Homo sapiens: one gene and its partners. The protein of the gene in region 1 purifies or fractionates together with the protein of each later gene. This does not show direct contact. Each region holds a gene or a part of one and is shown in the gene's direction. Other genes may lie near its edges. The genes, in order: EWSR1, ZC3HAV1L, ANXA2, USP19, CUL2, ACAA2 and DDX3X.

What was found.
Region 2: the proteins of EWSR1 (region 1) and ZC3HAV1L purify together in Homo sapiens (affinity purification with mass spectrometry, with the first as the bait; one large-scale study listed by BioGRID). This does not show direct contact.
Region 3: the proteins of EWSR1 (region 1) and ANXA2 purify together in Homo sapiens (affinity purification with mass spectrometry; 2 studies listed by BioGRID, with this or other methods). This does not show direct contact.
Region 4: the proteins of EWSR1 (region 1) and USP19 purify together in Homo sapiens (affinity purification with western blotting, with the first as the bait; one study listed by BioGRID). This does not show direct contact.
Region 5: the proteins of EWSR1 (region 1) and CUL2 purify together in Homo sapiens (affinity purification with mass spectrometry; 2 studies listed by BioGRID and IntAct, with this or other methods). This does not show direct contact.
Region 6: the proteins of EWSR1 (region 1) and ACAA2 fractionate together in Homo sapiens (co-fractionation; one large-scale study listed by BioGRID). This does not show direct contact.
Region 7: the proteins of EWSR1 (region 1) and DDX3X purify together in Homo sapiens (affinity purification with mass spectrometry; 2 studies listed by BioGRID, with this or other methods). This does not show direct contact.

The regions. Positions count from the first base shown.
Region 1 is NC_000022.11:29,271,268-29,274,767, forward strand, and holds part of EWSR1 (RNA-binding protein EWS), read left to right. Parts: intron 1-948; coding exon 949-985; intron 986-1,112; coding exon 1,113-1,164; intron 1,165-2,470; coding exon of another isoform or gene 2,471-2,473; coding exon 2,474-2,597; intron 2,598-2,997; coding exon of another isoform or gene 2,998-3,015; intron 3,016-3,500. UniProt on the Homo sapiens protein: Binds to ssRNA containing the consensus sequence 5'-AGGUAA-3'. Might normally function as a transcriptional repressor. EWS-fusion-proteins (EFPS) may play a role in the tumorigenic process.
Region 2 is NC_000007.14:139,026,043-139,029,542, reverse strand, and holds part of ZC3HAV1L (zinc finger CCCH-type antiviral protein 1-like), read left to right. Parts: intron 1-582; coding exon 583-841; coding exon of another isoform or gene 842-912; exon of another isoform or gene 913-928; intron 929-2,709; coding exon 2,710-2,835; intron 2,836-2,982; coding exon 2,983-2,999; 3' UTR 3,000-3,500.
Region 3 is NC_000015.10:60,363,487-60,366,986, reverse strand, and holds part of ANXA2 (annexin A2), read left to right. Parts: intron 1-2,463; coding exon 2,464-2,558; intron 2,559-3,500. UniProt on the Homo sapiens protein: Calcium-regulated membrane-binding protein whose affinity for calcium is greatly enhanced by anionic phospholipids. It binds two calcium ions with high affinity. May be involved in heat-stress response.
Region 4 is NC_000003.12:49,110,824-49,114,323, reverse strand, and holds part of USP19 (ubiquitin carboxyl-terminal hydrolase 19), read left to right. Parts: intron 1-39; coding exon 40-150; intron 151-230; coding exon 231-332; intron 333-1,694; coding exon 1,695-1,835; intron 1,836-1,921; coding exon 1,922-2,040; intron 2,041-2,275; coding exon 2,276-2,413; intron 2,414-2,510; coding exon 2,511-2,824; intron 2,825-2,958; coding exon 2,959-3,069; intron 3,070-3,157; coding exon 3,158-3,374; intron 3,375-3,460; coding exon 3,461-3,500. UniProt on the Homo sapiens protein: Deubiquitinating enzyme that regulates the degradation of various proteins by removing ubiquitin moieties, thereby preventing their proteasomal degradation. Stabilizes RNF123, which promotes CDKN1B degradation and contributes to cell proliferation.
Region 5 is NC_000010.11:35,083,842-35,087,341, reverse strand, and holds part of CUL2 (cullin-2), read left to right. Parts: intron 1-3,500.
Region 6 is NC_000018.10:49,803,534-49,807,033, reverse strand, and holds part of ACAA2 (3-ketoacyl-CoA thiolase, mitochondrial), read left to right. Parts: intron 1-3,500. UniProt on the Homo sapiens protein: In the production of energy from fats, this is one of the enzymes that catalyzes the last step of the mitochondrial beta-oxidation pathway, an aerobic process breaking down fatty acids into acetyl-CoA.
Region 7 is NC_000023.11:41,340,662-41,344,161, forward strand, and holds part of DDX3X (ATP-dependent RNA helicase DDX3X), read left to right. Parts: intron 1-822; coding exon 823-955; intron 956-1,833; coding exon 1,834-1,992; intron 1,993-2,075; coding exon 2,076-2,175; intron 2,176-2,554; coding exon 2,555-2,690; intron 2,691-3,075; coding exon 3,076-3,161; intron 3,162-3,368; coding exon 3,369-3,467; intron 3,468-3,500. UniProt on the Homo sapiens protein: Multifunctional ATP-dependent RNA helicase. The ATPase activity can be stimulated by various ribo-and deoxynucleic acids indicative for a relaxed substrate specificity.

The DNA.
Region 1 (3,500 bases):
ACTGCCTTTAAAAAAAAACTAAATTTATCTAACTTTAATGCAGTAGCGCTCTGAAAACTATTTTCCGTTTGTTTTTACTACTTGTAGACACCTCAGTGGACCAGTTTTTGGTCCCTTTGGATGCATGTTATAAATTTCATAGGAAAAGGAAAATTATAGGGAGGTTTACTTAGATAAGGGATGAAAATTCATGTCTTTTTTTTAAGTTGAAATCATTTTGAGTTGTATGAAAGACAATGGTGTTACCAAATTTTTCCCAGAAAGACTAAATGCTTTTTCTTCTTTGCCAGTCTTCAGGGTTCTGCCTTAGCTCTGCTTCACCAGGGTTTATAATATATCTAGCTTTTAAGTTGCTGCACAAATATAGTTCTGACACAGCAAACCCTTTAAAACACTGGAGTGTGGTGACTGCCTTCTTGTCTGCCATTCCGTTTCACTGTCGTTGAGCTAGGGAATGATGGTTTGTCTAACTTGCTAAAGTGAGGGGAGTGAAAACTAATTTTTGAGGAGAGGTAGGTTCTAACGTAACCAATCTAGTGTTAAACTTTGTATTATTGTTGCATGCCTCCGTTTTATATGAGGGTAGAAACTTCTGATCCTGTTAGTAGATCTTGTTGTCAGTCTGTGATATTGATGATCATCCTGTATTTTAAATGACAGTTGGGATTGGGATGGGTTTTGTGGTCATGGGAACATAAAAAGTATACCTGCCAAATCAGCTGATCTTGACCTCATTAGCTAGTCCCACAGTCAAATGTTGAGTTTAACTGGTTTAGACTTTTTTTTCTGTTAGATGTTGAGAGGTAAGGGGGACTCATTTGGACCTGTGTTGGCAGGTCTCCCTACAGTTTAAAGAATTCTTCCTGCCACGTGAATTCTTTCCCCCTTTTTTCTCTTCTCCTTGTTTCTGCTAACTTTACACTATTTTTCCTCCTTGTTTTCCTCTAGATTACAGTACCTATAGCCAAGCTGCAGCGCAGCAGGGGTAAGTCAGTCTTTTATAACCGTATTTTGTGTGTGATTAATATTTTTTGAATATGGAGCCTTCTATAATTGTAGAGGTGGTATTTGAATGTTCTCTATTCAAGTTATTGCATTTAATTCTTTTGCAGCTACAGTGCTTACACCGCCCAGCCCACTCAAGGATATGCACAGACCACCCAGGTAATCTTTAAAATAATTACATGTAGCTGCACCTCCAAGTAAAATCAGTATATTATCCAGTTATCTTTCAGTTATCCAGTAAAACAAATGAGTAATGTGTTTGGAATAGTAAAATACCCAGGCATTTTAAACTTTCACAGTGGGAGTGCGAAGGACTCCATTGTGCCATCATAAATGAAACCATTCAGAAGCTGATAATTGACTCTTTATAACTTTTTAATATGATTTCTCAAGTTAGGTGCCCTGTTCCATGCTTGGTCCTTCTTCATTATGTTTAAATTTAGTGAATTTATTCATCATAGCAATTCTGCAAAGGAAGAGGATGATATGACCATTCTGCAGAGGAGAACATTGCAGTGCATAGATATTAAGTAACTTGCCAGTGGTTGCACAGTAAGTGGCGGGGTTAGCTCTAAAAACTGGCGACCTAGCCAAGGAGCTGCTGAGCTCTTTCCAGTGAAGAGTCTGTTGAAAAGCCTAGGCCAACAGATTCTAGAAATTAGCCTTCTAGTGTTTTCAAGATAATGTTGAATTCTGAAATGATCCATGCCATAAAATGGATACTAATAACTGCCATGGAAACATGTTCTAGGACAAGCAGAATGTGATGTCTCTGGCAGATCTTACATAACTGGTCATTTAAACAAACCTAGAGAATAATCATGCTAATATCTGAAAGAACAACTCTTCCTTGCCTGATTTTAAGTATTATGGATGTCTAAGTTCAAAAGACAGTACTCTTGATGTGCCCACCATAAGAGGACATACAGCGTTCTGGTTCATTTTCTTTGAAGTGGTATAGTAGTTTTAAAGTCTTTTTGTCAGGCTGAAAATCTGGTTTTCAATTTTTTCTGACAGATTTTAGCCCTCTTCATTGCTTTCTCTGTTCATTTGTCTTCGTACCTTTTGTTTCCAATCACTAAAACTGTGCTACGCTAAGTGCTAGCAGTTAATACACCTGTGCCCTTATTGCTCTTCCCTTGAGAGTGTCTTGTTAATCTCATGTATAGTTAACTGAGGTTTTGCCTGATTATCTTTTTTTTCCCCCTTTTGAGAAGCTGTGAATGACATTGCCTACTTACCTAATGAGCTTTTTCCGTAGCTAACTTTACCATAATATGAGTGAACCAGATAAGGGATAACATTCATGATACTGTGATTATTTGTCTTGTTTTGTTGTTTTTGTTTTGTTTTTTTAATCTTCTAGAAAGGAATGTTTTTGATTTTGGTTCTCCAATTTAGTCCATTTTATTGCTAAAATACAAAAGTTCATGTATGAAGTTCTTGCATTCGTTTTTTTTTGGAGCAGGCATATGGGCAACAAAGCTATGGAACCTATGGACAGCCCACTGATGTCAGCTATACCCAGGCTCAGACCACTGCAACCTATGGGCAGACCGCCTATGCAACTTCTTATGGACAGCCTCCCACTGGTAAGGCCTGCCTTGGAGAGATTTTTGGGTCGTTCTGGCTAGGGCATTGGCTAAGAAGCTTATTAGTCATGCTTTCGGATGTATATTCTGGTCCATACCTTGGCATCTGGGGAATCCTTTATTCTTAGGAAGAGGTATTTTTTCTCTTTCTTCCCTACTCTTATAGTCTTGAGAGATCTCCAATAGAATGTGGGTGGGATAAATTCCAAGAGAGAAAAGAACTTTTAACTGTTTGAATAATCTCACGATGAAATGGAGACTATGTAAAAGATTTTGCTAATGCTAATACTGAGTAAGAATGAGTCTTCTTAAATTGAGCTGCTTAAAAATCAAACTGGTTTTCACATGTTTGCTTCATCTGATAGTGTACCCTCTACTTTTTGTTTTGTGCTTTCCACAGTAGAAGGGACCAGTACAGGTTTGACTATCCTGCTCATTCTTGCATGGGAAATGCTTTCCATCTTGTCTAACCCTGTAATGTTAATCCTTTAGGTGTTTTCATTTGTTGAACCCCCAAACTTTCTAACATCACACACAGCAAGGTGCTAATGAAAAACTGCTTCAGGTGCCATTTGCAGATCCATGTCCTATTCTTTATATGATTTTGGGAAAGGTTTTTTTATTTAATATTACTTTGTTTCAAGCCTTAATAATAGTTATTTACCTTCCCAAAGGTATTTCAGGTGATTTCTCCCCAGCTGATTTTCCCCTGTTCCCTGAAGGATAGATTGCATGATGAGATTTATTTAGAGGAGCAGACTGCCACCCTGCATGTATCATGTTTGTCTATTGGTTGGTTTCTAGTCCAGACACATTTTATTTTCTGTTTTAAGTGTTATGAATTATTTTAATCCATGGTATGTCTTGAATATATATAACATTATTCCAAGATACTAAAAAATA
Region 2 (3,500 bases), on another chromosome or scaffold:
ACAGGCTTTGGGGACAGAGGGCAGTTCAGCTGAGAGTGTAAAGTAAGAGGGGGCAGCTGTGAGTCACAAGCAGCCAGTGCCCACAGCAGCGGGAGTATGGTTAGCACCACTACACTATCATCAGGCTTTCCCCCAAAGATTTTAACAGCCACTGGTGATCAGAAGATGTCATTTAGTCTTCAGTTTAGCTAGAGAAGCTATAGTCTTTTGGCTTAAAAGATAGAGTGAAAACTAATATTGGCCGGGTGTGGTGGCTCACACCTGTAATCCCAGCACTTTTGAGAGGCTGAGGTGGGCAGATCACCTGAGGTGAGGAGTTGGAGACCAGCCTGGCCAACATGGTGAAACCCCGTCTCTTCTAAAAATACAAAAATTAGCTGGCTGTGGTGGTGAACGCCTGTATTCTCAGCTACTCGGGAGGCTGAGGCAGGAGAATTGCTTGAACGCGGGAGATGGAGGTTGCAGTGAGCCAAGATGGTGCCACTGTACTCCAGCCTGGGTGACAGAGCGAGACTCCATCTCCCCGCTGCCAAAAAAAAAAGAAAAACTAATATTTCAGGTGTTCCCTCATTTCTGTACCAGGTCTGTTTGCTCTACAACAAAGGGGAAGCCCTGTATGGCTACTGCAACCTCAAGGATAAATGCAACAAGTTTCATGTGTGCAAATCCTTTGTGAAAGGAGAATGCAAACTTCAGACCTGCAAACGGTCCCATCAGCTTATCCATGCTGCATCTTTGAAGCTGCTACAGGACCAAGGACTGAATATTCCAAGTGTTGTTAATTTTCAGATAATCTCCACCTACAAGCATATGAAGCTGCACAAGATGCTTGAAAATACAGGTAGGAATATCCAAGAAGGACAGAGAAGTATCAGCGATATGGTTTTGCGATGCTTCACTGTGAAGAAGTAAGAACAGTGACATGAAAGTGAGTCTGGGGGCAAAGCAGTTCCTATGTTAATTTCATCTTTGTTCTTGGGAAAGTTTAGAACAGGCAACATTGTATTGTATAGAACGGTGATCCTAACCAAAGGAGAGAAGGGATGGAGTTTATCTTTAGCACTGTCACTGCTAGCTACTAGAATCTACCCAAGTGATTGAACAGTAGCTTGTTGGTAAATTGGATGTCAGGAAGTAGGTAGAACAGGTTTTGTTTTTGTTTTTTTTTTTGAGACAGAGTCTCAGTCTGTCGCCCAGGCTAGAGTGCAGTGGCGCGATCGGGGCTCACTGCATCCTCTGCCTCCCGGGTTCAAGCGATTCTTCTGCCTCAGCCTCCCGAGTAGCTGAGACTACAGGCATGCGCCACCATGCCCAGCTAATTTTTGTATTCTTAGTCGAGGCGGGGTTTCACCATGTTGGCCAGGATGGTCTCAATCTCTTGACCTCATGATCTGCCTGCCTTGGCCTCCCAAAGTGCTGGGATTTCAGGCATGAGCCACACGCCCGGCCTAGTAGAACAGTTTTAATGGCATAGTTAGGAAAAAGAGGAAGGAGATGGGCCGGTGAGTGGAAAAGTAAGATTAATGTAGGGATGGCTTTCTTGTCATAAATATAATTTTTGGCTTTGTTAATTTTTAAGTAATTTTAATGACATTACAGAACAATTTGGAAAATAGCAACTGGAAATGAAAATTGTATATGATTTTGCTCACTCTAATCTACTATACTTGTTACAATTTTATTATAGGCCCTTCAGTTCTGTTATATACAAACACGAATCCAATTGTGCTCAAAGTATATGTTAATTTAATATCTTAAATTTCTACTTTATACAACATCATATTTTCCCATATTGCTAGGAATATTGCATATTCCCATTATAAATATATTCCCATAGTCTTTCAGTAATTTTTATTGTTGTTTTTGAAGACAGGATCTTGCTCTGTTGCCTAGGCTGGAGTACAGTGGCACAGTCATGACTCACTGCAGCCTCGAACTCCTGGGCTCAAGTGATCTTTCTGCTCAGCCTCCCTGGTAGCTGGGACTGCAGGCACATGCCACCATGTCCAGCTATTTTTTAAAATTTTTCTTTTGTAGGGACAAGGTTTTGCTATGTTGACCAGGCTGGTTTTGAACTCCTGGGCTCAAGCAGTCCTCCAGCCCTGGCCTCCCAAAGTGTTGGGATGACAGGCGTGAGCCACTGCACCTGGCCTTTAGTAGTTTTTTAGTCTACAAAGTGTGGTTTGGTGTTCTTTTAATTCTAATGCATTCAGTTACTTATTCTGTTACATTTGCTGGTACCTAGAAATCAGTGGGTGGTAGGCTTAGGAGAATTGCTGTTGGGAAAGGTAAATCACCAAAGGCGGAGTTGCTAAGCTTTCACCATCGAGTTTTCATGTGTTGGGATGTTAGTGTCAGACGTAGTGAGTGCAGACAGGGAGGGCTCTGCATATACCAGTGTCGGGCTGTTTAGGGAACTGTGAATGGTGGCAGGTACCTTCTACCCTATGCTGTGTCTAGGGCCTGTCATTGTCTTCATCTGGTTTCGTTTGGTGAGTCTCTCCTGTGACATAGTGACTTTCCGCTTGCTCTCTCTCTCTCTATTTTTTATACACACACACATACAATTTTTTAAAATCCAGAAGACATGAACTCTCCAAATCCATGTGTTGGGAGTCTTGTCTGATGGCTGGTTAGCTGGGCTGTTGCTCCCAACGTAAAATGAAACTTGGGGTATCGTAGGAAAACTTATCCCTTTCCTCTTTGTAGATAATTCATCACCTTCGACTGAGCATTCACAAGGCCTTGAGAAGCAAGGAGTGCACGCAGCTGGAGCTGCAGAAGCTGGTCCTCTGGCTTCTGTCCCTGCTCAGTCGGCCAAGAAGCCCTGCCCAGGTAAACCTTAAAGGGGGTCAGTGAACTAAGAAGAAGCTTGTCCAGCTTGGAAGATCTGAAAACAAGCCTTCTGTTTAGCTTTAATTTGTAACCATTCATTCATTTAATGATAGATTTGTAATGGTCATAATAATATCTACCTCACAGTGTCTTGCGAGAAGTAAAGAAGATGGAAAAGGAGAAAATGTCCTTTTGGAAGAATACATTTGGGCATGGGTGGTTGGGGATGGGGTGGGACATTGAACAGGCAAAGAGAGGCTAAAATTGAGTGCAGATGGGGCTAGTCCAGGGCAAGTGCTGAAGATGGCAGCTGCTATCTGCAGCTCCTAGGTGCTTTCCTCAGGCTGGGTAGATGGAGCTCTGCTGACTTCTGTGGTCCACCATTGTTTTTCTATCAATTTATATTGTGGCAATCCTAGAGTACTTTGCACTCATTTTTTTTTTTCACTTAATATTGTCTCATAAGCATCTTTCTATATTTGTTCACATCGTACATAATCATGTTTTTGCACAGATACATTAATATTATCATAGTTTGTTTAACTACTTGGCTTTTTCTAACAGTTTTTTTTTTTGAGATGGTCTTGCTCTGTTGCCCAGGCTGGAGTGCAGTGACGTGATCTCGGCTCACTGCAGCCTTGACTTCCTGGGCTCAAGTGATCATC
Region 3 (3,500 bases), on another chromosome or scaffold:
GGGCTGACCCCCCCACCTCCCTCCCGGACGGGGCGGCTGGCCGGGCAGAGGGGTCCTCACTTCCCAGTAGGGGCGGCCGGGCAGAGGCGCCCCTCACCTCCCGGACGGGGCGGCCGGCCGGGCGGGGGGCTGACCCCCCCACCTCCCTCCCGGACGGGGCGGCTGGCCGACCCCCCCCCCCCCCGCCTCCCTCCCGGACGGGGCGGCTGGCCGGGCAGAGGGGCTCCTCACTTCCCAGTAGGGGCGGCCGGGCAGAGGAGCCCCTCACCTCCCGGACGGGGCGGCTGGCCGGGCGGGGGGCTGACCCCCCCCACCTCCCTCCCGGACGGGGTGGCTGCCGGGCGGAGACGCTCCTCACTTCCCAGACGGGGTGGTTGCCGGACGGAGGGGCTCCTCACTTCTCAGACGGGGCGGTTGCCAGGCAGAGGGTTTCCTCACTTCTCAGACGGAGCGGCCGGGCAGAGACGCTCCTCATCTCCCAGACAGGGTCGCGGCCGGGCAGAGGCGCTCCTCACATCCCAGACAGGGCGGTGGGGCAGAGGTGCTCCCCACATCTCAGACGATGGGCGGCCGCGCAGAGATGCTCCTCACTTCCTAGATGGGATGGCGGCGGGGAAGAGGCGCTCCTCACTTTCCAGACTGGGCAGCCAGGCAGAGGGGCTCCTCATATCCCAGACGATGGGCGGCCAGGCAGAGACGCTCCTCACTTCCCAGACGGGGTGGCGGCCGGGCAGAGGCTGCAATCTGGGCTCTTTGGGAGGCCAAGGCAGGCGGCTGGGAGGTGGTTGTAGCGAGCCGAGATCACGCCACTGCACTCCAGCCTGGGCACCATTGAGCACTGAGTGAACGAGACTCCATCTGCAATCCCAGCACCTCGGGAGGCCGAGGCTGGCGGATCACTCGCGGTTAGGAGCTGGAGACCAGCCCGGCCAACACAGCGAAACCCCGTCTCCACCAAAAAAAAACGAAAACCAGTCAGGCGTGGCGGCGCGCGCCTGCAATCGCAGGCACTCGGCAGGCTGAGGCAGGAGAATCAGGCAGGGAGGTTGCAGTGAGCCGAGATGGCAGCAGTACCGTCCAGCTTTGGCTCGGCATCAGAGGGAGACCGTGGAGGGAGAGGGAGGGGGAGGGGGAGGGGGAGAGGGAGAGGGAGAGGGAGACTCAGCAGCAATTGGATTTCTATGTTTACCTTGGCTACTCTAAAAATGAGAGCTAAAGTTATAGATGCTACAGTTAAGATAGCAAGCATATTGGTATGGACTTGCTTTGAAATGAGCATATACATTTTAAAAAGTTATTTATTTTTATACCCAGAAATTCTAACTTTATACTTTTTGATCTAACACACTTGAGAATTCAAAATACTTCCTCTGTCAATCTGCTGTTTGTCTTTGTCTCAAGCGTTACAGTTTTGACCTTTCTGTTTCTTCAGGACTCCTCTGATTTTCTTCAGGCCAAGCCATTTGTAGTTTGCAAGTGACTTTGTAGGTTTAGCAACTCTACTCTCTCACCCAAGAGTTACCTATCCAGTTATGGCAAAGACTGTTTCTTTCATTAAACAAAGTTATTAATCAGTCAGGAGAGAGACTTTTCACATTCTGAATTTACAAACTGTGCTTTCTTAAGTTAAATGGCATGTTAGGAGTATTTCTGATATGAAATTGGAAACTTGCAGACACCAGAAGGCATTGCTTATCTTTGTAAATACACATGTTCCAATTAAAATAGGTACTAAAATATTTTGGTGGCACCTCAAAACTCCCAATTTAGATTTAATTTAGATTAAAACACTTACTCTTTTTAATAAAGTTATAAAATTAATTATTAAAATTGCCTATTGAAGATTAAAGGCAGTGGAACGTTTATTTTCCTTACAAAACAATTTTGTCTTCAATAAGTGTGATTGTGTTAATCAATTATGCTATTAAAAATACAACTGCCGTGTTAAATCTGACTCATTTGTCATGACAGTTTTTATAATTATAGAAATTATACCTAGCTGCTTATATAGCCATAATCCTGCAATAAGTATAAATAATTATCTCTATTAATTCAGTTTGCAGTTACTCTCTATTAAATCCCGAGTTAAATGGCAATTTGGGGACCTTCATTTAAAATCCTACTAAATCTCTGTTGTTCCATCTGACTGCCAAAGCCCCACATATGCACCTCCTACTGTTGATTCCAGAAACCAATTTATGAATAAAATAGTTTTTAAACCACAAGTATTTAAAAGGTCCATTTAAGCTTGAGGTTTGAGGCTCTCAAGAAAAAAGGAAAGAGAGTGTACACATTGGGTAGAGGATGCTGACGAAAGAGATAGAACAAATCTTGGTGTCTGGGTATTTCAGTTTGGAAAACAGTATATAAATTTCAGTTTGAAAAAGTCTGCTTGACACCTTCTATGTAAGCCCAAAATACTAGAGTATACTGAGTAACGATTAACAACTTGTATTTCCATAGGTGTGGATGAGGTCACCATTGTCAACATTTTGACCAACCGCAGCAATGCACAGAGACAGGATATTGCCTTCGCCTACCAGAGAAGGACCAAAAAGGTACAGGCAATTCCAGGGATGGAGGGCATTTCTTGTTGAATTTTTGTTTCCTCAGACATTGCTTTTTCTTTTCATGAATTGTGGCTCTCATGCGCAAAAGACTTGTGGGACCCTTGGATATCTAAGATTTTCTTCTTAAATCCTTGTAAGAGTCACTGCACATGTGTGTGTGCGTGTGTGCACGCGCGCGTGCACCTCAGGTCATCAGGCATTAGGTTCTCATAAGGAGTGTACAACATAGATCCCTCGCGTGTGCAGTTCACAGTAGGGTTCGCGCTTCTGTGAGAATCTCATGCCACCGTTGATCTGAGAGGAGGCAGAGCGCAGATGGTCACGCTCGCTTTAGAGTGCTTGGGAGCTCCTGTGTAAGGACAGTACCCTCCCCCAACCCAGGCTACCTGGAGGGAGAGCTTCTGGGAATAGAAAGTTAGGAATAGGGAACAACAACAATAACAACAACAGGCACCATTTATTGAGTGCTTACTTTGGGCCAGGCACTGTGCTCAGTTTTGTACATGTAGCAACTCATTTCATCTTTATGACTTCTGCTGGTTCTTGATAAGATGTTTCTAATTTAATTTTAGGATACTAGCCTCCACTGAGTGTTGATCCTAACAAGCTCCTCTCATTTTAAAAATATACACTTGAATTCTTAAGCTTTTTGCAACGAGTGGGCTTAGTTGTTAGTTCATTTGGTCTGCAAAGCTATCTTCAACATGCCATGCTCCTACTATTTAAAGGGTCTTTGTGTGCTTTTTCCCTTTGCTTGTCCACTAGTGGTTAAGAAACAACCAGTGCGTGTTCGTCCTTTATTTTGTCAGTTGTAGGAAATTTTATTTTTAAGGACGTGCTGCTTTATTTTTAACTTCTTGCTATTAAAAGCTTTTGATTTATTCTTGGACAGTGCAGTAAGTGTGGCTTCCTGCAGCTCCCGTTTGACTT
Region 4 (3,500 bases), on another chromosome or scaffold:
TCTGTGTGCAGCTACCCAGTGCCACCTCTACATCCACAGGTCTCCATCACTTTTGACCCGTTTCTTTATCTGCCGGTGCCCTTGCCACAAAAGCAAAAGGTTCTCCCTGTCTTTTATTTTGCCCGAGAGCCCCACAGCAAGCCCATCAAGGTGAGGAGTAAGCCCCTACCCTCTGGGCTGTTCTAGAGAACGTGGCCCACCTCCCTCACTGACTGCCCTTTTTGCCACAGTTCCTGGTGAGCGTCAGCAAGGAGAACTCCACTGCGAGCGAAGTATTGGACTCCCTCTCTCAGAGTGTTCATGTGAAGCCTGAGAACCTGCGTTTGGCGGAGGTATCTTTGTCCTTCCTTGGGCTATCACATGTGTGGATGTGTGTGTGTACTCACCACAGACGTGTGTACAGTCATTGGCATCTACAGACATACACATGGGCTGGGCACAGTGGCTCATGCCTGTAGTCCCAGCACTTTGTGAGGCCGAGGTGGGCAGATCACTTGAGCCCAGGAGTTTGGGACCAGCCTGGGCAACTTGGTGAAACACTGTCTCTACAAGAAATAAAATTAGCTGGGCATGGTGGTACGTGTTATAGTCCCAGCTACTTGGGAGGCTGAGGCAAGAGGCTCACTTGAGCCCGGGATGTGGAGGTTGCAGTGAGCAGAGATTGCACCACAGCACTCCAGCCTGGGTGACAGAGTGAGACTCTGTCTCAAAAATAAATAAATAAATAGATAAAAAAATAAAAATAGGGCCAGGCGTGGTGGCTCATGCCTGTAATCCCAGCTCTTTGGGAGGCCAAGGCTGATGGATCACAAGGTCAGGAGATCCAGACCACCCTGGCTTACATGGTGAAACCCCACCTCTACTAAAAATACAGGAAAAGTTAGCCGGGCGTGGTGGCACATGTCTGTAGTCCCAGCTGCTCAGGAGGCTGAGGCAGGAGAATCGCTTGAACCTGGGAGGCAGAGGTTGCAGTGAGCCGAGATCGCGCCACTGCACTCCAGCCTGGGTGACAGAGTGAGACTCTGTCTCAAAAATAAAATAAAATAAAATAAAAATAGACATACACATGAGTATGCCTGTGACTGTACAAAAACAGGCGATGTGCTGTTATTTTTTCTGTGCAACAGAAGTGCCCTCAGTTCCTAGCCATTATCAGGGTTTATTCCCCTTTGTGGTGGTGGATCCCAACTGCATTTCCCTTTTTAGACAAGGAGCTTGAGCTGCAGGACTATCCCTATGTTCGCTCTGCCTCTCCCTCTATCCTGCTGCTCTCTCCTTTTATCCCAGTTGTGTGTGCTAGCTCTCCCCAGGGGTTCCTAGCCTTTAGCCTGACAGTGTTGGTTTTCTTAGGGGTAAGAGTGGGGAGGAGGCTCTTTGAATGTGGACCCTCCATGATAATATGTTACAGTCTTATAAGGCTATGCTAGTTATAGCAGGGCAGAGTCCCTCAGTGTGGAGAGCTGGTGTGGTTGATATCTGCCTCACACCTGGTCTTTCAGGCCCTCTGATGCACCAGGCTCCTTATGGCATTGGGCACTGAGACAGGTGCCAGCAGAGGCATAAGCCTATTTGGGCCTACAGACCTCACCACTGCCCACATAGACCCAAGGCAGGGCCAAGCCTTCTTAAACTCTGGGGCAGGGCTAGGGAAAGGGCTTATCCTCACGTGGGATCTGTGTGTTCTCTGTCCCCAGGTAATTAAGAATCGTTTTCATCGTGTGTTCCTACCCTCCCACTCACTGGACACTGTGTCCCCATCTGATACGCTCCTCTGCTTTGAGCTGCTATCCTCAGAGTTGGCTAAGGAGCGGGTAGTGGTGCTAGAGGTGCAACAGGTGAGTGGGGGCCAACCTGATGGCACAGCGCCCTGGTGGGTGGGGCACTTCTTCCTGGTCTTGCTGAGCCAGACGACCCACCCTAGCGCCCCCAGGTGCCCAGCGTCCCCATCTCCAAGTGTGCAGCCTGCCAGCGGAAGCAACAGTCGGAGGATGAAAAGCTGAAGCGCTGTACCCGGTGCTACCGTGTGGGCTACTGCAACCAGTGAGGACCCCCATGGTCTCCCCTACCCTTTCTTTCCACCTTCCATGTGCCACCCTGCTCCTTCCCTTCACACCAAGGCACATATGCTTAAGCTTTCTACTTGCCACCCTACTTTACCAGGCTCTGGGGGAGGCAGGGCTGGCGTACCCAGTTCCCAGGGACTATGACTAGCCCCCAGTATGGAGTCATAGGAGATGGGGCTAAGGGCCTATCCTTGTCTTCCTCTTCCCGTCAGGCTCTGCCAGAAAACCCACTGGCCTGACCACAAGGGCCTCTGCCGACCTGAGAACATTGGCTACCCCTTCCTGGTCAGTGTACCTGCCTCACGCCTCACTTATGCCCGCCTCGCTCAGTTGCTAGAGGGCTATGCCCGGTAAGTGCCCAGTGGTTGGACTAGAGTGGTGTAGGTGGGGGCAGAGGTGCTAGATGGGCTGGTCAGGAGTCTTACTTGCGTTGTTCTCTGTTGCCAGGTACTCTGTGAGTGTATTCCAGCCACCCTTTCAGCCAGGCCGCATGGCCTTGGAGTCTCAGAGCCCTGGCTGCACCACACTGCTCTCCACAGGTTCCCTGGAGGCTGGGGACAGCGAGAGAGACCCCATTCAGCCACCTGAGCTCCAGCTGGTGACCCCTATGGCTGAGGGGGACACAGGGCTTCCCCGGGTGTGGGCAGCCCCTGACCGGGGTCCTGTGCCCAGCACCAGTGGAATTTCTTCTGAGATGCTGGCCAGTGGGCCCATTGAGGTTGGCTCCTTGCCAGCTGGCGAGAGGGTGTCCCGACCCGAAGGTAAGATCCAGTGAAAGGCTCTAGAAGCTGGGGAGGAGGATAAGGGAGGATGGAGGGGGCTGTTGTTTAGGGCCTGGTGGGCCTGGTGAGGCCCTGATGGGCAGGGAAGCTTTGATTATCATGTTCTCACACAGCTGCTGTGCCTGGGTACCAGCATCCAAGTGAAGCTATGAATGCCCACACACCCCAGTTCTTCATCTATAAAATTGATTCATCCAACCGAGAGCAGCGGCTAGAGGACAAAGGTGTCTGAGGCTGTGGGTGGGAGCCATGGGGTGGGTTGAGCTGGCTGTTCTCCACAGCTGCATGACCTCTCTCCCTGCGAATCTCCAGGAGACACCCCACTGGAGCTGGGTGACGACTGTAGCCTGGCTCTCGTCTGGCGGAACAATGAGCGCTTGCAGGAGTTTGTGTTGGTAGCCTCCAAGGAGCTGGAATGTGCTGAGGATCCAGGCTCTGCCGGTGAGGCTGCCCGGGCCGGCCACTTCACCCTGGACCAGTGCCTCAACCTCTTCACACGGCCTGAGGTGCTGGCACCCGAGGAGGCCTGGTGAGAACAGAGCAGCAAGTAGATAAGGGGGCAGGATGGAGAAGAGAGAGACTTGCTGGTCCTGACCCAATCTCTGTCCCCACCAGGTACTGCCCACAGTGCAAACAGCACCGTGAGGCCTCCAAG
Region 5 (3,500 bases), on another chromosome or scaffold:
GCATTTATTTATTGGTATACTAATGTTTTGAACAAAAACTGTATTCACATGGCTCAAAATTTAAGATGTTAGTCTGGGCAACATGGTGAGACCCCATGTCTACAAAAAATAATTTAAAAAACATTAGCCAGGCGTGGTGGCGCACGCCTGTAGTACCCGCTGTTGGGAAGCTGAGGCCAGATGACCAGGTTGGAAGTGGCAGTGATCTGTGATTGCACCACTGCACTCCAGCCTGAGTGACAGAGTGAGACCCTGTCTCTAAAACAAACAGAAAACCAAAATATAAAATTGTCAGTAGGGAATAGAATGAAAATCTCCCTCCACTTCTTGTACCCTTGTCATCCAGCTTTCCTTGGAGCCAAACATTGTTAGCTGTTTCTTAGATCTCCTTGGAAAAAAATATTTGTGGACATATAAGCAAATATTGTTCCCACTTTGCAGAAACAGTAGTACACTTTACTTTGACATTTGTATTTTTTAGAGTGTTAAATAGTAGTTAAGTTATGAAATAGGATGAGAACACAGAGAATGTAGAAAGAGGATAAAACTGTGGAGTACTGCAGCATTTTCTGATTTGGTCCCTGCCCTTGTTAAGTTCATTTATTTATTTATTTATTTATTTTGAGATGGTGTTCGCTCTGTCACCCAGGCTGGAGTTTGTATTTTTAGTAGAGATGGGGCTTCACCATGTTGGCCAGGCTGGTCTCGTTAAGTTTTTGACCTACAGGTGTGGAGTTGTTTAAAAAGCTGTTTCCGGCCACGTACGGTGGCTCAGGCCTGTAATCCCAGCACTTTGGGAGGTTGAGGTGGGTGGATCACTTGAGCCCAGCAGCTTGAGACCAGCTTGGGCAACATGGCGAACCCTGTCTGTACAAAAAATACAGAAATTAGCCAGGTGTGGTGGTGCAGGCCTGTAATCCCAGCTGCTAGGGAGGTTGAGGTGAGAGGATTACTTGAACCCAGGAGGTGGAGGCTGCAGTGAGCCACTATACTCCAGCCTGGGTGACAGAACTAAGAGAGTTTCATTGTGTTGCCCAGGCTGGTCTCGAACTCCTGGGCTCAAACAATTCTCCCACCTCAGCCTCCCTAAGTGTTAGGATTACAGGCGTGATCCACTGTGCCCGGCCTTGTTTCTTGTTTCTTTTTTTTTTTTGAGACAGAGTCTCTCAGTCTGGAGTGCAGGGGCTCAATCTCAGCCCACTGCAGCCTCCACTTCCCGAGCTGGGACTACAGGCGCCCTCCACCACTCTCAGCTAATTTTTGTATTTTTAGTAGAGACAAGGTTTCACTATGTTGGCCAGGCTGCTTGTTTCTTTATTTTTATCTTTTTCAACTTTCATTTTAGATTCAGGAGGTACACACGTAGGTTTGTTACCCGGGTATATTGTGTGATGCTGAGGTTTAGGATACAATGATCCCGTCACTCAGGTGCTGAACATAGTACCCAACCGTTTTTCAACCCTTATGCCCTTCCTCCCTCGCTGTAAAAAGCTGTTTCTTTTTGTGAGACTTTACAAAAGTTTGCACTGTTTGTTTTGTGTTCTACCTTATCTGCCTGTTCTTTGTGTATTCTGGAAAAATGTCTGGCTGTGATTGAAAGCAATGTTTCATATGCACTATCAGTTTTTTTTTTTTTTTTTTTTTTGAGACAGAGTCTGGCTGTGTCTCTGGTTCCCGGGTTCACACCATTCTGCCTCAGCCTCCCGAGTAGCTGGGACTACAGGCGCCTGCCACCATGCCCGGCTAATTTTTTGTATTTTTCATAGAGATGGAGTTTCACCGTGTTAGCCAGGATGGTCTTGATCTCCTGACCTTGTGGTCCGCCTTCCTCAGTGTCCCAAAGTGCTGGGATTACAGGTGTGAGCCACACCGCGCCTGGCCCTAACAGTTATTTTTATTTTTATTTTTTTTTGGGACGGTGTCTCGCTTTGTCGCCCAGGCTGGAGCGCAGTGGCGCGATCTCAGCTCACTGCAAGCTCTGCCTCCTGGGTCTACGCCATTCTCCTGCCTCAGTCTCCAAAGTAGCTGGGACTACAGGCAGCCGCCACCATGCCTGGCTAATTTTTTGTATTTTTTTAGTAGAGACGGGGTTTCACTGTGTTAGCCAGGATGGTCTCAATCTCCTGACCTTGTGATCTGCCTGCCTCAGCCTCCCAGAGTGCTGGGATTACAGGTGTGAGCCACCACACCCAGCCAGTTATTTTTTATTATTATTATTTTTTGAGATGGAGTCTCACACTGTCACCCAGGCTGGAGTGCAGTGGCACAATCTCGGCTGACTGCATTCTCCGCCTCTGGCATTTAAGAGACTCTCCTGCCTCAGCTTCCCAAGTAACTGGGATTACAGGCGCCCACCACCACCCCCAGCTAATTTTTTTGTATTTTTAGTAGAGACGGGGTTTCACCATGTTGGCCAGGCTGGTCTTGAACTCCTGACCTCATGATTCACTTGCCTCGGCTTACCAAAGTGCTGGGATTACAAGTGTGAGCCACCAGGCCTGTCCAACTATCAGTTGTTTTTAAGTAAATTGATGACAGGATCAGCCCTAGAATCTTAATATTATGAGGACTTATGACTGGCTCATGTTAAATCTTGGAAAAACAAGCAGCGATTTGGAATGTTATGAGATTTATAACAAGTTATTGATCTATGAGATGTATGACTGAACCCTCTCTCAGTAATCAGTTAATCACAATATCTATTCAGAGTGATTTGGCTCTGTGCCTGGGTTTGAATCTTACTGGTAACGTATCTGTCATATTGCAGTTAGCATAATCTTTGGGTTACCTTTAAGAATGTATAGATTTCTATATCAGTACTTTATATTTGGCTTTTCATTGGGAAAGGCTTATTGGAGACAATCCCTTTGATTCTTAAAAGTTTTGAGACAGTAGTAGTGTTAGGTTAAGATTGTGGTGTTGGATCTGTAGAAACTTCCGGGGTGCCTTGAACCCTGTTGATTTTTCTTTTGGAGGAGGAGAGGTGGAATATTTCCTTTTGCTTTAAGCTTTGTTATTCTGGAGAATTAAAAATTCAGACTGATACTGTGTCTTGTTTGCTTGTTTGAGACAGAGTTTCACTCGTCACCCAAGCTGTAGTGCAGTGGCGCGATCTCAGCTCACTGCAACCTCTGCCTCCTGGGTTCAAGTGATTCTCCTGCCTCAGCCTCCCAAGTAGCTGGGACTATAGGTGTCTGCCACCACACCTGACTAATTTTTATATTTTTAGTAGAGATAGGGTTTTGCCATGTTGACCAGGCTGGTCTTGAACTCCTGACCTCAAGAGATCCGCCCTCTTTGGCCTTCCAAGGTGCTGGGATTACAGGTGTGAGCCACTGTGCCTGGCCTCTTTTATATAGTTTAACATTATAAATAATGTTAGTTACATCTATTAATTCAGTGACTTAGTCTTTCTCTATTGTAGGTTGCTTTTCAAAGAATGAAACATGGATTTGCCATATGTAAATTTTTAAAAATATCTCAGCCTTGTTTTAATTCAG
Region 6 (3,500 bases), on another chromosome or scaffold:
TGGAAAGACGATCCTTTTTCCAGTGAATTGCCTTTCCTCCTTTGTCAGACCTTGAGGTTCTGGCTTTGTTTTTTAATCTTTTTTTTTTCATCTGTTCTTCAGATTGGTTAATTTCTATTTATCTATCTTCAAAGTCGCTGAATTTTTCTCCTTTCATTTCTATTTTGCTGTTAAGCCCATCCAGGGAATTTTTTATTTCAGGTATTTTCCAGTTTTGGAATTTCCATTTTGGATTTTTATAGTATGTATTTCTTTACTGAGATGTCCTATGTTTTATTAGGAGCATATTTTCCTCTACATCCTTGAGCATAGTTGTAATAGAATGCTATTTTAAAATCCTTGTCTGCTAATTTCAGTGTCTGGGTCTTCTTGGGATTGGTCTCTGTTGATTGTCATATTTTTTGTTTCCTCATATGTGGATTAACTTTGAATTATATTATGAATATTGCAGATGGAACATTGTGGAGACTGGATTCTGTTATAATCCTGCAGACAGAACTGACTTATTGATTGGTTGGCTATTTATTTTTTGTAGACAGTTACTTTGCCTACAAAATCACCCCCATGCACCCCCGTGATAAACTATGTCTCCCCTTGTAGTGGGCAGCAGCTTAAATCTAAGTTCAGTTTTTTAAGGCTTGGCTTAGGTGCTTGTGGTCTGACCTACACATGAATGGCTAAGGAGTCAGCCAAATATTTGGGCAGAGTTTATATGTGAAATTTGGAATCTCGCTCTATGGTGCTCCTCTTTCCCAGATTCTCATTCACTTTCTAGTGGCTGTGCTTACCATGAATTTTATTCTCTGATTCTTCAAGCCAGTAAGACTGTTTCTGAGTTCTAGCCATTCCATGCATCATGGACTGTTAGTCTTCAAGTTAGTTGCTATAAATAAATTGGACACTTACCCTGTTCTGTTCCCTTCCTCTAAGTATCAACTCTTCTCCTTACCTGTCTAGTTTTGTTCATTTCCAAGACCGTCAGGTAGTAGTTGTTCTTATATATTGTCTGGAGTTTTTCATTGTTATCTGTTGGAGGGTTGGTCAGATAGGAGCATAGTAGGCCATGACCAGAAGCAGAACTAATGAAATTAGGAAGAAGGCATGGAAAGAGGAAAGAAGAATGAAATAAAGCAACCACTGATAGGCCAGGTGCAGTAGCTCATGCCTATAATCCTAGCAGTTTGGGAGGCCAAGGTGGGAGGATTGCTTGAGCCCAGGAGTTCGAGACCAGCCTGGGAAACATAGCAAGACCCCATCTCTACAAAAAAAAAAAAGAAAAAAAGGTAAAAATTAGCCAGGTGTGGTGGCACATGCCTGTAGTCCTACCTACTTGGGAGGCTGAGGCAGGGGGATCACTTGAGTTGGGAAAGTCGAGGCTGCAGAGGTCGAGGCTGCAGGGAGCTGTGATCACATCACTGCACTCTAGCCTGGGCACAGAGCAAGACTGTCTCAAAAAAAAAAGAAAACACTGATATAAAAATAGGCAGAGACTGTTAAGGAAGGAGGATGAAAGGAAACTTGAAAAGATTCAGGAAGGCATCATGGTACAGAATAACCAATTTACCAGAACAAAACGTTTGTAATGCACTCGACTAGTATTTATGGCCTTTTGTAACTATCTGAATTTGTATCTGTAAAAAACTGAGTGGATCTGTTCTAAATTATAGTTATATATATTGCTCCTAATATTCCTTTAAACTGCAAATTTCTCAAAATAGGAATGAAAAGAGAGGTTGAAATAGAAATATTTTAGGCTAGGCTTGGTTTGTTTGATGAAAGAGATCATAAACTGGAAGATTATACTTAGATACCAGTAGTGGTATAATGCTTGAATAGTCTCATTTGTAGATCAGTATCTTATCACAAACCCATTGCCGAAAGTCCCATAATTTCTTGACAAGATGTGGAAATGTGAGCTTAGATTGTCTTGGAGAGAATAAAGTTAGTATATGCAAAGTGCTAGCATGAAGTCTATTCCATAGTAAGTGTCCCCTCTATGTTAGCTATAATATTTACCTTGCAGAGTTGCTGGGAAGATTAGCTTTTGTGTGGAAAGTGATAAAATGTCTAGTATTTAGTAGACACCTAATGAATGTCAATATGATGAAATGGCTATAACTGATGCTGCTTACTGATATGCCGGTTTTGCACTGTACAGCTCTAATGATGATGAGTGGGTACCACTCACATCATAATCATATATTTGTATAGTCACAAGTTTTTTTTTGGCAGATGGTAGTAGGTGATTGGGAAGGGGTGATTTTTATTTATTTGTACAAGGACACCGATTTAACTAATAGTGATGCTGCAAATTTATAGTCTTAGTTTGTATTAGTAGATGTATAGATAATTCCTCTATTCTTTGTGATTAGATAAAATGCATGCTATTTTTGTTATATTCTTATATTCTAAGGGACACATTTTAATAGGATGTTGGCAAACTACAGTGTCTTTAGAGGAAAGCAGTCAGAATTAATGTCAAATAAAAAACTATTGAAAGAATGCCTTTAATTTACCTGAGATGAGAGTCACTAGGTTTGGGGACTTACAGGTTAGCTGACTTCAGATACTGGAGGTGGGGGATACACATGTAGAAGGTAACCTGTTTTGCCCATTTTTTTTCTAAGAGTAAAAGATAATAGTTCAGGTTATTTATTTGAAGTCTGTAACTTGAGTCATCCTGTGACTCTAGAACCGGTAGCAGCATATATTCTAGAAACTACATCTCTATCTGTGTTGGTGCTTTTGGAGAGAACTAGAATTGGTGGATGGAAGACTTTGTAAGCTGAGTTAGTTCAATATAAAGAAATATCATTCGTTGGGGCCGGGAGTGGGTGACTCACGCCTGTAATTCTAGCACTTTGGGAGGCTGAGGTGGGTGGATCCCCTGAGGTCAGGAGTTCAAGACCAGCCTGGCCAACATGGTGAAACCCCGTCTCTACTAAAAATACAAAAATTAGCCGGGCCTGGTGGTGGGTGTCTGTAGTCCCAGCTACTCGGGAGGCTGAGGCAGGAGAATCACTTGAACCCGGGAGGCGGAGGTTGCAGTGAGCCGAAATCGCGCCACTGCGCTCCAGCCTGGGCGACAAGAGCAAAACTCTGTCTCCAAAAAAAAAAAAAAAAAAGCAATATCATTAGTTTATGTTGTCCATGACCAGCACACTGTTTCATGCAGTAGAGTATGCCCTCTTACTGAAAGTTTCCTGGCAGAGGTTTAGAGAGAACCTTTTGTCAGGAATTTTTAGAGGTAGTTCTTATAGAGTGAGTGGTTGACCTCAGACAACCCTAAGGCACCTTCTAGTTTGGAGATTCTTTTATTCTAATACTAGGCAATATACTCCAGCACATAGAAGAAGGATTTTAGTTCTCAACATATGTTTCTAGCATTGTGAAGCATCAGAGAACAAGAAAGTTGTCTAACCAGAATGGCTTTACATCACAGTGTAGCAGGACGAGCCACAGTCAAAACTCCTCAGACACTGGATTAAAGAAGGAAGAGG
Region 7 (3,500 bases), on another chromosome or scaffold:
AGTAGATGAACCACTAAAATAATACTACAATTTGACATTAGTGTTCTTGTACTTTATACTATTGAAACTGAAAAATACTGTATTAAACCAAGTAATCTGACAGTCTATGAATGTTCTAAATGAATACCACCTCCAAGAAACATGGAAACAATGGTAACTGTTTTTCCTAGTAAACTCATTCACACCTATAAAATGAATGGAAATTAAATTGTTATGGTCACACAACGTCATAATGCGTTACAGGCAAAGCTGTTGACCACTTAGAGGTAGTATTCATTGAGAAACATTCTTAGACTGTCAGATTGCTTGATTTAGTGTAAAGTAATTTTTTTTTTTTTGAGACAAGGGTGTTTCACTCTTGTTTCCCGTGCTGGAGTGCAGTGGCGCAATCTTGGCTCACTGCAACCTCAGCCTCCCGGGTTCAAGTGATTCTCCTGCCTCAGCCTCCTGAGTAGCTGGGATTACAGACGTGGGCCACCACGCCTGGCTAATATTGTATATGTAGTAGAGACGGGGTTTCTCCATGTTGGTCAGGCTAGTCTCGAACTCCTGACCTCAGGTGACCTGCCCGCCTTGGCCTCCCAAAGTGCTGGGATTACAGGCGTGAGCCACCATGCCTGGCCAGTGGACAGTATTTTCTAGTGGGGAGAATTAAAGAAAAACTTTGTCCGGGTGTAAACCAGCTTTAAATCTTGGTTCTCTTACAGTGCCATGGTAGGGATAGTCAGTGGAGGCTTTCAAATTCAGAAAGATTGATAATACCTTAACATGGTTCCTATTTCTAATTAATAATAAAATGTATTTGTGCTTTTTTAATCAAAGGTTTCTACGATAAAGACAGTTCAGGGTGGAGTTCTAGCAAAGATAAGGATGCGTATAGCAGTTTTGGATCTCGTAGTGATTCAAGAGGGAAGTCTAGCTTCTTCAGTGATCGTGGAAGTGGATCAAGGGGAAGGTAAGTGATTTCTTAATCACCTTACGTGTATGTATAATAACAGTTTAATAAGTCGTTATCCTGACCACCTGTTTGGATGTTAAGCATTATGTCTGTTTGGTCATTGTATTTTCTTAGCCGTAAGAGGCTTTTACTAAATTGAACCTGTTACTTAGAAATTAGATGAAAATAGGAATATGCTCATTGGCATAATGAAATGAGTTATTCTATTTCTCGAGTTTTATATGTTCTACTTAAAAGAGTAAGTTCATCTAGTGAATGGCCTAATTTGGTTGGGATTTTTGTGGACTCTATAACAATTTCTAAACACCTTGTATTTTTGATTACACAAGTGTGGTGAACTGACCCCACGTGCCTAATAGCTGTGGTTAGTCCTGTGTCCTGATTTTTCGCAAACAGGCCTAAAACTCTTAAAAACATCTTAGTTCAGGTAAGGATTATTTTCTACCTTTTATCCAAAGTCTGTCACACAGGTGAATTGTCCTTTAAGTGACATCCTAGTATAACTAGGACGATTGATATTTGGTGTGCTATTTTCTTGTTTTCCCTACCATTAAATATATTTGGATGAGCACTTTAAATGAAGGTTGTGAGCTGTGTGCCGATTTCAAATAAAATCCTTATTCTTAATTTTGGCATCTGTGAGGCCTTTTAGGCTATACAACTTTATAGAAATGTAAAGATTACTGATTTTAGAAAACGAGGTTATGTAAATGATGCTGGTTAGAGAGCCTTATTTGTCAAGTAACTCAGAATTGGATTGTTGACATCCTTATGGTTAGCCATAACTTAAGTCTCCAGATACAGTTCTAGAGTAGGGATAAGAATCTGATAATGGTTAAATGATATGATTCTGATTAATTGCTTGTGCTGTTCAGGTTTGATGATCGTGGACGGAGTGATTACGATGGCATTGGCAGCCGTGGTGACAGAAGTGGCTTTGGCAAATTTGAACGTGGTGGAAACAGTCGCTGGTGTGACAAATCAGATGAAGATGATTGGTCAAAACCACTCCCACCAAGTGAACGCTTGGAACAGTAAGTTTTTGAAGTGTATGTTACTTGTGATGAAGCCTTACTAGCTAGTATAACAAATGAACTTATCCATTTTTTGATTTGAGGGAACTCTTTTCTGGAGGCAACACTGGGATTAATTTTGAGAAATACGATGACATTCCAGTTGAGGCAACAGGCAACAACTGTCCTCCACATATTGAAAGTGTGAGTATTTTTGCTTGACTTTTTAAGACACAGAGAGGTTAAATGTTTTCATGTTACATTAGAATGTGAGATGGGCTTCATAAAGTCATGTAGACCAGAGGCTTCATAGATTTGTGGAAAAGGAGAAGTTGAGTTCAGTGTCACCATTATGAATAATTTATTACCTAAAATAGAAAATGGGTCAAACATAGGAACAACCCAAAGTCTTCTCCAATGTGCAGTAAGCCTGGGGGTTGGTTTTTCTCAAAGTATAATGTGATAATTTTACTTAAACTATAAACTGAGTTACCAATCAGCTGTTGGTTGGTTGTTTCCATTATTAGTATAAAACAGAAATAGCTCTAGATAGCATTCCTAACCCCATTGAATTTCTTAACAGTTCAGTGATGTTGAGATGGGAGAAATTATCATGGGAAACATTGAGCTTACTCGTTATACTCGCCCAACTCCAGTGCAAAAGCATGCTATTCCTATTATCAAAGAGAAAAGAGACTTGATGGCTTGTGCCCAAACAGGTAAGCTCAACTCATAAGAGTAAAACATCATATTTCTTCTGTAAAGGACTAGACAATAAAATATTTTATTTTTTATGGGTCATGCAGTTTTGCAGCTGCTCTGCGCTGCTATTGGACTGTGAAAGAAGCCATAGATGATACATAAATTATTGGTTACGGCTGTATTCCGTAAGAGCTTTATTTATAAAAATAACAGGCTTTATTTACAAAATAGTCTCAGTTTGCTGACTCCTCTTAGAGGTGGAGCAGAGAAGCCACTTTTTGGAAAACTTAAGCATAAACTAAAAGTACTAATTATTAGTAATAGGGTAGTTAAAAAACACTGTCATCTACCAATGTCTGTTTAAAAGTAATGAGCAGGATTTGTTTGTTTGTTTTTGAACAGGGTCTGGAAAAACTGCAGCATTTCTGTTGCCCATCTTGAGTCAGATTTATTCAGATGGTCCAGGCGAGGCTTTGAGGGCCATGAAGGTAGATGTTTCTTTATAAAATGGGAAATTGTAGAACTTTGTAGGTGGCCATTGAGAGGGCTTTCTAAATGATGCTAAGACTTAAGTAGAATGAAAACCAGTTTTCAAGTGTAATCTGTAATCTATAAATTACAAAAGGGAATTATGTTGTGATGAACTTTTCAAACAGGGTAGGTAGAGTTAACTTAAAAATTAACTTATTTCTTAGGAAAATGGAAGGTATGGGCGCCGCAAACAATACCCAATCTCCTTGGTATTAGCACCAACGAGAGAGTTGGCAGTACAGATCTACGAGGAAGCCAGAAAAGTAAGTATGAGTTCCAGTGATTATTAGCTTTTT